Linked DNA regions of Homo sapiens: region 2 is linked to region 1. Evidence: fine-mapped expression QTL. A gene starts in region 1. The other region holds a variant in brackets. All regions are shown on one strand. Distances are between the middles of the regions. Region 1 holds the start of CNST (consortin, connexin sorting protein). Region 2 overlaps CNST (consortin, connexin sorting protein).

Region 1 (5,373 bases):
ACAAGGAGATTGTTCACATGGGTGGGTGACATAGTGACACCTTTGCTTTCTGATGGTCCAATGTACACAAATTTTGTTTAATGCACAAAATTATTTAAAATATTATACAGAATTGCCTTTAGGCCTTATGAATAAGATGTATATGGAACAAAAAAGGAATTTTTAGACTCGGGTCCCATCCCCAAGATATCTCATTATGTATATGCAAATATTGCAAAATATGAAAAAATTTGAAATCCAAAACAGTTGTGTTCCCAAGCATTTCAGATAAAATACTTAATTTGTATGCCAACCTTTCTTGCCTTTCAAACCCTAAATATAGAGGTTACACAGATCCATTAACCTAATATTAGCACTTATTCCAATTAGATTCCAAGCTCACAGAAGAAAGGAGCACAGCGCAGCTTAGTAGAAATGGGGAAACAAGCCTAGGGATGCCAGTTATACGCTTTGTTCAAAGTCACCCAACTAGGCTGTAGCCGACCTAGAACTAGCAAACAAGTCTTAGAACTCCTCATGTTTCAGCCATTCAACAGCACTGAATATTAACTGTGTTCTAGTCTTTGGGAATAAACAAGATATTTCAGAGATGGCTCCCTAAAAGATATTCTATGTAAAACACTGTGTGCTTAATTCCATTTCCTTAAACCACTCACAGATAGTTGAACAAACAATAACATACGTTGAGAAACTAAAAATATACCTCCAAATGTGGAATAAAAGTTTTGTCACTTTCGAGCGCAACCACTTTGGCACCAGCTTCAAGTAATGCCTGAGTCAGGATTCCAGGACCTGGCACATTAACAGAACGAAAAGTTTATTTGTACAAGAAACATAATCTCTTTCAATACCAAACTTTCATTAGATGTTTCACACGTTATTACCTGGTTTTTAAATCTGACAGCATCCGCAAAGTAGATGTCACTCTCCTTTTTACATATAAGGAAACAGGAGATTATATATACTTATTTGACTCCAGCGTCAAAAGTGATGCAGCTTGGCTTTGAAATCATTGTCAGCGACTGCAAAACCTGCACTCTTTTTTTTTTTTTTTTGAGACGAAGTCTCACTCTGTCACCCAGGCTGGAGTGCAGTGGGGCAATCTCGGCTCACTGCAACCTCTGCCTCTTGGGTTCAAGCGATTCTCCTGCCTCAGCCTCCCGAGTAGCTGGGATTACAGGCGCCCGCCACCACGCCCGGCTAATTTTTGTATTTTAAGCAGAGACGGAGTTTCACCATGTTGGCCAGGCTGGTCTGGAACTCCTGACCTCAAGGGAACCACTCGCCTCGGCCTCTGAAAGTGCTGGATTACAGGCGTGAGCCACCGCACCAGGTCAAAACTTGCACTCTTCATCACCATGATTCACTACCTCTTAGAAGAAAAAAGTCACAGCAAAATAGATTGCCTCTAGCCTATCACTTCCTCACGGACTACACGGATGCTTTAACCATCAAAGAGATTGTCAAGCCTAAACAGAACTGACTCCCTGTGATATGAAATGGTGCTTTAAAAAACTATCATTCAAAAAGCCTATAAATCTTGTGTTCTTAGCATCCTGCTATGGTCTATAGGGAATGCACGGAAGAATAAGATAACATCATTTTTTCAGCTGGCAGAGGCTTGCAACTCTTTTGGGGAGATAAGATCTAAGAGCATGTTTTATCAAAATATTGTGTAAAGTGCAAGCTGCTACAGAAATACTTTGTGGTGTCATTAACGATACAGACTCTACGCTTATGTAGTGGGCAATCTCTCCAACTAAGGAGCTTCAAACAAAGACCCGTATCTGGACGGGCGCAGTGGCTCACGCCTCTAATCCCAGCATTTTGGGAGACCTAGGGGGGAGGATCACGAGGTCAAGAGATCGAGACCATCCTGGCCAACACGGCGAAATCCCGTCTCTAGTAAAAATAAGAAAATTAGCTGGGCGTGGTGGCGCGCGCCTGTAGTTCTTGCTACTCGGGAGGCTGAGGCAGGAGAATCGCCTGAACCCGGTACGCGGAGGTTGCAGGGAGCCGAGATCGCCCCACTGCACTCCAGCCTGGCAACACAGCGAGACTCCGTCTCAAAGCAAAAGAACAACAAAAAAGACCCCCCAGTATCTAAAATAGCACCCCGAGGAGGGTCAATACGTTTGAATAAATGATGAACATCCAAGAAAATGCAATTCAGCTGGACTCACCTGGATTGCACTCCAGCAGTAGGTGTGGAGGTCTACTTGGTTTTCCCAAATAGATTTGCGCCAGGGTCTCAGCCAATCTCCGATCGGTTACGTAACGCTTAAAGTCTAAGCTGGCCTTAGACGCCTTCCTTGGCGGATTCCTGAAATCCGGTTCGGGCCACAGCTGCGGAGAGGAGTCAGAGAGCCCACAGTGGTTCCTCGCCGGCAAATGCTTTCGCGTCGCCGCTTCAGACCCTAAAATGCAAAAGCGACCAGCGCCCGCCAAGGCGGAGAGCCTCAGCCGCCGAGGAAGCCCGACCACTGGGATCCACATGTCCTTGTCTCTCAGGCCCGCTCCAAGAATCACCTAGTGCAGCTACTACAGTGAACCCCACGCAGGGTATCCCACGTGGAACATTTTCTGGCGTCCGGGCCAGGTCAAGCGGAAGTAAACACTAGAGCCTGCGCATGCGAACAGCGGAGCCTTCCTGCTTTTCTCCCTCACTTCCGCTTCCGCCTCGGCTCAGCCGCCCGAGGATTGTGAGTGGACCGTTGAGGAGAGCGACCGACCATCCGGCTGGTGTCCGGACTCGTACTCTATGGTTGTCCGCGCTCTGCGCTTCCTCTCTAGCCGCCAGTGCTCTATGCTCCGCGGTCGCGGGCCGCCAGCCTCCAGCCGGCCAGCCGCGAGGGGTGCGCAGAGGGAGGCGGGGCGGAAAGGCGAGAGGTGTCTCCTCCACCGGAGCCAGGGGAGACCCGAGCAAGCTCCGTGACAGCACGTCGGCCGCCATGTCGCCGAGTGGGGCTGGAAACAGACCCGGCGCCCAGCGGTAGCCCTCCTTGCGCCTCCGATTCCCAGGTGAGGAGAGGAGGAGCGGGATGCAGGGGACCCGCCGGCTCGCGGCCGGGATGGAAAGCCTTTCGGAAGCCTCTCGCTCCTCCCCCTGCGCTGTCCTCCTCCAGCCGCGCAGCCTCTGCCCTCCGGGTGAGGTGTAGCCCGGTCCCCTTACCTCCTCCGCCTCTCAGGTCGCCTGTTTTCCTCTCCTTTCTCAGCTACTGTGGGTCTCCTATTGCTGCGCGTCGCGCCAATTTCTCCCTCCCTAGGGGACTAGCGCCAGAAGTCGTTCCTCACCCGGCTCCTGGAGGAGCCTGCGGCTTCCACGGTCTCCGTTCCTTTCTGTTGTGTGGCCCACAGCCCGCTCTCCCCACCCTCGTGGATGGTTTTCATTTCCCCCCCACACCTGGTCCCCCCCATCACTACCACTTTGGTTGTCAAGAACCGCGTGGTGTCTCCCTTCCATTCCTCTCTCTGGGCCAATATTTTCCTTAATTTTTTCAGTTTGTGTGTTTAAAAGACTTAAAGTTAAGATTAAAAATGAAGATGTAAAAGCTTACAATTCCTTTCTAAGCTTAAAAAGATTAAGACTTTAGGATGCTTACTGTATTCCTTATGTAAACTTAGTCAAACACATCGTACTGTGGAATGCGATTTAAAAGACCCAATTTTGAAGACTAAAAATAGGATGCTGTAATGGAAATTTTGGCAGTCTTTTTTTTTTTACCTATTGGGCAATGTTAGAAGACACGGTTCTTTGAGAGTGTTTTCCGTGTTTCAGGATCAAACTTAGAGCTTTTACCCATTATCCTTACCACCAAGGCAAGAAACGGCAGCCAATCAACTCCGTGTCTTAGAATACGTACAATCCTTTCTGCTTACTCTACTGAGAGTGTAATTGAGTTTGGCATTTAAATGCACGAGGAAAAGGTTCCTAAGGAATGTATCACCCAGCAAATAGTCTGAAGATTATACTCATCTGATGAAGCTCAAGCGGATAAAGAATTGACAACTAAATATGACCTTTTGTGTATTATAAATTTGTTAGGACATCATAGAAAATATCTCATCAACTGTTGTGCAAACTGTGGGGACTCACTCATTGGTCTTAATTTGCTTAAATTCTTTTTTCGTACAGTTTTCTCACTGACAATTTTCTAGAGGTGACTTTGCATCCTCTGAACCTCTCTCCATTACTGAGCTGCCTCCCCCTCTCCCCTTAAAAAACATTTTCATAGATTCAGAAATACACTTTTTTCCCCCTCCAGGACCTGGAGTCCTAAATATTTTTAAATCAGATAAAATAGAATTATGTCTTCATGGTTCACTCATAGAAATGTGTCGTTGAATTTCTGACTTTTTAAAAAAAACACTGTGGTGGCTGGGTATGGTAGTTCATGCCTGTAATCCCAGCACTTTGGGAGGCCAAGGTGGGAGGATCACTTGCTGCCGGGAGTTCGAAGCCAGACTGGGCAACATAGACTCTGTCTCCTTAAAAAAAAAGAAAGAAAGAAAAAGAGAAAAAGAAAAATAAACACATTGTGGTTAAAAACAAAACAGTTATTTTAAAATGCACTGTCTTATTTCATAATGTTTGTGGACCAAAGTTAGCCTACTGAGTCCTAGAAAAACTGATGTCATTTTTTATTTTGCTTTTGAGTGTTATTATTTTCTCTTGGTTTTGGGAAAGAGAATTACATTATAATATTCCCTTTTTACAGTGTTGATGGTTCACTTGTTTGTAATTGAAGGTACTTGAATAATAAGAGATTTTTGTACATCTTATTTTTTTTCTGAGGTCCCAGGTGCTGAGAATGTTGATTTCACCTTAAAGATGAACTTTATGATCAGGATTTAGACATACTTTATTAGAAAAACTTGATTAGTGTGCAGTATTTCCCATCTTTTTTCTTAAGAAGTGTGGTTTTCTATCCTATGCTGTTTTTGCCTTTTTGAAGTAATTTTGAGATGGAGTCTACTCTGTCGCCTAGGCTGGTGCCATCTCGGTTCACTGCAACCTCCGCTTTTCGGGTTCAAGCAGTTTCTCCTGCTTCAGCCTCCCGAGTAGCTGGGATTACAGGCTCCTGCTACTATGTCCAGCTAATTTTTGTATTTTTAGTAGAGACGGAGTTTCGCCATGTTGGCCAGGGTGGTCTTGACCTCAGGTGATCCTCCGACCTCCACCTCTCAAAGTGCTGGGATTACAGGCGTGAGCCACCACGCCTTTAAAATACTTTTTTTCTTGCTTTTTACATTTAAATATATTTATTTATTTGTGAAGGCGGAGTTTTGCTATGTTGCCCAGGCTGGTCTCAAATTCCTGGCCTCATGCAATCCTCCCACCTCAGCCTCCCAAAACACTGGTATTACAGGCAT
Region 2 (5,381 bases), 83 kb after region 1:
TTTAATAGAGACGGGGTTTCTCCATGTTGGTCAGGCTGGTTTCGAATTCCCGACCTCAGGTGATCCGCCCACCTCGGCCTCCCAAAGTGCTGGGACTACAGGCGTGAGCCACTGTGCCTGGCCCCATACACCATGCCTTAAATGTGCTGAAAATAATTTTTGTAACTTCATTTTAATGTAAAAGTTTAATAAAGTTCAGAATATCTTTTAAACCTTTGAAAATGACTTTGTTGATTTTAATGAGGACTAAGTGATTTATTCATATTCACATGCTTTTGAATAATCCCTGTTATGTATAAGGATTCTTTACTAAATATTTTGGGTATTTCCTCTACCTAAAGACACTATTATGCAACAGACAGAATTTCCATTTGAAAGGGTTAGAATATTGCTGTATTACACATATTCATATGTCCCTTCTTTTCCTTCCTATACAAAGTGTTGTTTTGAATTTTTAACAATTTATTTTTCTTCATCTTTAGAGAGTAAAACTTGTCTCGGCACAGAGTCAAGTAAAGAAAGCCAACATACAGTGGAGCCCCTGGGGAGCAGTCCCTGCTGTCATCAGATGGACGTGCAAACAGATTCCCCAAGCCTTTCGGTAACTGCAGGAAAGGACCACATGGAGGAGCTGCTCTGCAGCGCTGAAGCCACGTTAGCGCTCCACACCCAGTCCTCCGAGACAGCAGGGAGCCCGTCTGGGCCAGACTCTTCTGAGGATGCTTGTGAGGATGACAGTCGCTTGCAGCTGGCTCAAACAGAGGCCTGCCAGGATGTGGCCAGAATAGAGGGCATTGCTGAAGACCCTAAGGTGTTTCTTTCCAGCAAGTCAAAGACAGAGCCGTTGATTTCACCAGGCTGTGACCGTATACCTCCTGCATTGATTTCTGAGGGTAAATATTCACAGGCTCAGAGGAAAGAACTCCGTTTGCCACTTCGGGATGCTTCTGAGGCGTTGCCCACAGACCAACTTGAGAACAATGAATTAAATGAGCTGCAGCAGCCTGATCTTACAGACAGTGATGGAAAATCACCACAGGCGCAGGCTGACTCAGACGGTTCTGAGAATGTGCTCTGTGGAAATAATCAAATATCTGACTTAGGCATACTGCTTCCAGAGGTGTGTATGGCCCCAGAGGAAAAGGGAGATAAAGACGACCAACTCAACAAAGAAACAGAAGACTATTTGAACAGCCTTTTAGAAGGATGTTTAAAAGATACTGAAGATTCCCTTTCCTATGAAGATAACCAAGACGACGACTCCGATCTCCTTCAAGATCTCTCTCCTGAAGAAGCATCCTATAGTCTCCAGGAGAATCTGCCTTCTGATGAGAGCTGTCTTTCTCTTGATGATCTTGCCAAAAGGATAGAGATTGCAGAGGTAAATCAGAGATGAAGTACAATTAAAAGTAAAATGGCATTTAAAAAACATATATATGTATTAAATATTGCCTTGTTTTTGTAAGTTTTCCCTTGTCTCAAACATGAGGGAAAATTCTAGTTAACGTAAGCTTTTAATTATTAGTAGTTTTTACATTTGTATGTATTGAATAAAATGACTTTTAATCATTGCAATGTTCATACTACAAGATGTTCTATTGCATGCCTCCAGCTAGAGTGAGCGTTATTGTATATATCCATTTTTTATAGTCCTGACTGTTATGTGGCAGTTCCAGATATTGGAATCAAAACCAGAATAGTCACATTCTAATAAGGAAGTCTCATTTTTCTTCTCATACATCTAGCAGATAAAATATGATATGTACTTACTGTTTCTTCCTCTTGTTAATATATTTTTTAAGTCTTTTAAAATAGTCTAAAGAATAGAGGGAACATTTTAAAATATAAGAGGTACTAGATTAATTTTTAACCTTATATTAAGTTGAAAAAAGAGATTAAGGAAAAATTACCATTTTTCATTGTTTGATAATACAAAAAAAAAGTTTGGAAAAAGAAAAGATAAAAGCCATATCCAAACTACAGCACACTCA[C/T]GAAGGCGGCCTGGTGTGGTAGAGCAGAATTCGATTGCCTTAGTTCCAGTACAATCCCACCAGGTAGTTAACAGCTTCTTGGAGTTACCTTTTACCTCTGTAAGCCTGTTTTCTTCTCTGAAAATTAGGATACTAGCTGCCTTTCCTTTTCTTCACCATTTTTCCCCCCAAGTTCACTTTTAAGTCCCATTTGTACTCATTGTGTTCTAAATCAGCATTATCATTGAAAAAATAAGGGGGAAAATGAAAAAGTAACAAAGCCAAAGTAGACAGTAAAATATATGTGAAAACAGAAGACTGAAAAGCTGTCTAAGGTAATTATAGCTGCTATATTACTAGCTCCCTTTATTGCCATTTATAGTCAATTCTCTATAAACAATGACTTTTCTTTTTAATTTTTTTCTTGCCAAAATTAGATAGAATAGTAAAGCACTTGGCTTACTATTCATTCTCTTATTTTAACCAGACAGCTTGGTTGCCATTTGCAGTTAATTCTCTACAGACTGTTGTTTTGTTTTTTTTTTTTTTTCGTAGTTTTTGCTTAACAAAATTATTTAATATTGCTTAATGGGCACAGAATTTCCATTTGGGGCAATGAAAAATGTTGGAAATAGATGGTGGTGATGGTACACGTTTTGATTGCAATGAATGCCACTGAATTGTATACTTACAAAGAGTTAAAATGGCAGTTTCATGTGATATATATTTTTCCACAATGTTAAAAATAGTTTTTTAAAAAATTAGAGCTAATGGTATAGCACTTAATCCGGTATTCATTCTCTTGTACATTTTAACTAAATCTCTGGTACAGGAAGTTAACAACACAAAGCTTATACCCATATTCAAATCTTAGCTGTAATACCAAAAAGTTACCATTGTCTGACTGTCCTTTCTCATGCCAACAATCAAGTTGACCATAAAGGGAGAACCCATGTGGTCTAATTTTACCTTTTTAGGTATAAACTGTGAAGAAGAAGCAGAGAGCTCCTGTTGTCTTGCCCACCTTATAAAACGTTTTCCTCTATTTCAACATTTGACTAGTTACACACTGATAATCATATGGTGTGCCTTTTTAGAACTATCTTTCCCCAGTAACTCATATTTGGGAGGATAATAGGAACTTTTGGAATTTCAATTTTTGCTTCTGCCTGAAAGCTGTTCGGCTGGATAAATTTCTATCATCTAGTTTGCCAGATGTCCCCTCCAGAGCAATTCTTTGAGTTTTGGTAACCTTTATCTTCAACCTCCTCCCTACTCAGCTGTGTTGAAGATGCACAAGGGTCTTGTCGTGGATGTATCAAAGGTCTGTAGCATTTCTCCTGTATATTTCAGTCATCTATTGACATGTATTTCCAAAGCCTACAATTGATCAACATCCCTTTCCCAAATTATTTTTCCCCACATCACTAAATTTAAAATTGTTCTCAACTGAGTCATCCTATTTCTAAGAAATTAAAGAGTTGTTTATATTGGGGAAAAAATATTTTAAGGTGGCAGATTGTTAAATTAATGTTGCGTATTACAATTAAATGGAATATTCCCTCCTCAGACTCAAAACACAATGTCACTTCTGCTGGGTAACAGCTAACAGTGGAAATTACATGTGTTTAAAGTTGTCTTTTCTATTAAGTTAATACATAATGGTCTCCTTTCCTAAGATTATATTGATCTATTAAGTTAAGCTATTTTAAGAACCCCAAAAGCTACATATACATGACTTACAAAACTAATTTACTTTCCTATGACAATGCCAAGCAGATTGTTAAACATTTGCTTTCTGAATACTTACTACCCTCGCTATTCTGAAAAGCATGGTTTAACAAAGTCTGCCTAACTCTGTCAGGAAAGGAGTTTTTAAAGTTTCAATGCTAAAAATCACTAATACTTAATATTTTCTAATACCTTAACAATGAGGTTTTGGACCAAGTAAAATATCCAGGCAATTGTGGGTTTGCTTATAAGTGCAAACTTAGGATTTTTATTTTAAAAATTTCTTTTAGATTTGAACATATAAAATTTTAATTCAAACTTTTTTTTTTTTTTTTTTTGATACAGAGTCTCACTCTGTCGCCCAGGCTGGAGTGCAGCGGCACGATCTCAGCTCACTGCAACCTCCATCTCCTGGGTTCAAGCAATACTCGTGCCTCAGTCTGTCGAGTAGCTGGGACTACAGGCATGCACCACCATGCCCTGCTACTTTTTATATTTTTAGTAGAGATGGGGTTTCACCATGTTGGCCAGGCTGGTCTTCAACTCCTGGCCTCAAGTAATCCACCTACCTCGGCCTACCAAAGTGCTGGGATTACAGGCTTGAGCTACCATGCTTGGCCTTCAAACACTTTTTCTGTTTGTGCTTTCAGTAAAATTTTATTAAGAGTCTTCCCTGTGTTTGGTGCTGAGGATACAATGAGAAATCAGATGATGTTGTTGGCCTTTTGGGGGATCTCTGCTGTCACACTTGGCTGATTTTACTGGAATTGTTTTTGAAATTTTTTTTTATGCTTCCTTCCGTTTGTGATTAGAGGATATAGAACATGATCTCTTAATAACCAAGTAATTATGAACAACATTTTTCTTGCACTTAGGAACCCCGAGGCAATGAGTCTGCCCCCTCCACCCCTCCACGCTGCTGTGCTATCGCAGGTGGTCCTTCTCTGTTCGCTTTCCCAGATCTCCCTATCATTTCTCCCCGCCCAGGTTCTCTTACTTCCCTCTTTCTACCATTGTGTTTGTGGTAGAGCATGCTGGTTTGTTCTTTCTTTGCCAGCTTTCCCCTTTCCTCTTGTCTGTCTGCTTTCATTTTCTTGCCACTTTTGCATTGCCCAGCCTTGGCTCCAGTGGAATTTGGTTTTGATCATCATTGCCAGCCCAGTGCAAGCACTTGTTTTGTTGTGTTGCTTTGAACAGTTGGATTCATCAGATCAAATGAAATAATTTACATAAAATGTCACAGAGAACTAAAAATGTCTATACTATTTATATAGTGACATGTATAAAGGGAACTTGTCTAGGTTTGGAAAGCTTTTTCAAACCCAGTAATTTGCTATGTAAAGTGATAGCTTAATATCTGAAGTATTGCTATTCTTTCTTACATAAAAAATAGCATGACACGTTATCATCAAAAGTATAGTTTATACTGTATACTGTTTTTAAAAAGCATCAAAAATTTTATCCTCCTTTCATAGATTTTTAAGAAAAAAAATGATCACATGTGCATTGTCAGACAACACATTGGAAAGATTTACTCGTTTATTCTCTCATTCTGTAATTTTTATTGAGTGACTTCTCTGTGAGGGCCGCATTACAGATGCAGTGACTGAAAATACACGTAAGGATTTTTATGCAGATGAAGCCTGCAATCTAACAGTCGTCTGGCACCAAGTGTGTTGT

The links.
Region 2: its variant is fine-mapped to the expression of CNST in whole blood (TOPMed, PIP 0.94).

The regions. Positions count from the first base shown.
Region 1 is chr1:246,563,643-246,569,015 of GRCh38, forward strand. It overlaps CNST (consortin, connexin sorting protein), which reads left to right and starts at 2,814. Exons shown (of 11, transcript NM_152609.3): 1 at 2,814-3,021. It overlaps TFB2M (transcription factor B2, mitochondrial), which reads right to left and starts at 2,619. Exons shown (of 8, transcript NM_022366.3): 1 at 2,184-2,619; 2 at 704-792. The coding sequence starts at 2,496. RefSeq lists enhancers at 2,309-2,588, 2,819-2,878, 2,919-3,418.
Region 2 is chr1:246,646,657-246,652,037 of GRCh38, forward strand. CNST (consortin, connexin sorting protein) reads left to right here. Exons shown (of 11, transcript NM_152609.3): 9 at 483-1,381. Among named protein-coding and RNA genes, the nearest start is that of SCCPDH, 75 kb to the right of the region's middle. RefSeq lists an enhancer at 406-1,605. The variant C/T (reference allele first, on the strand shown) is at 1,992.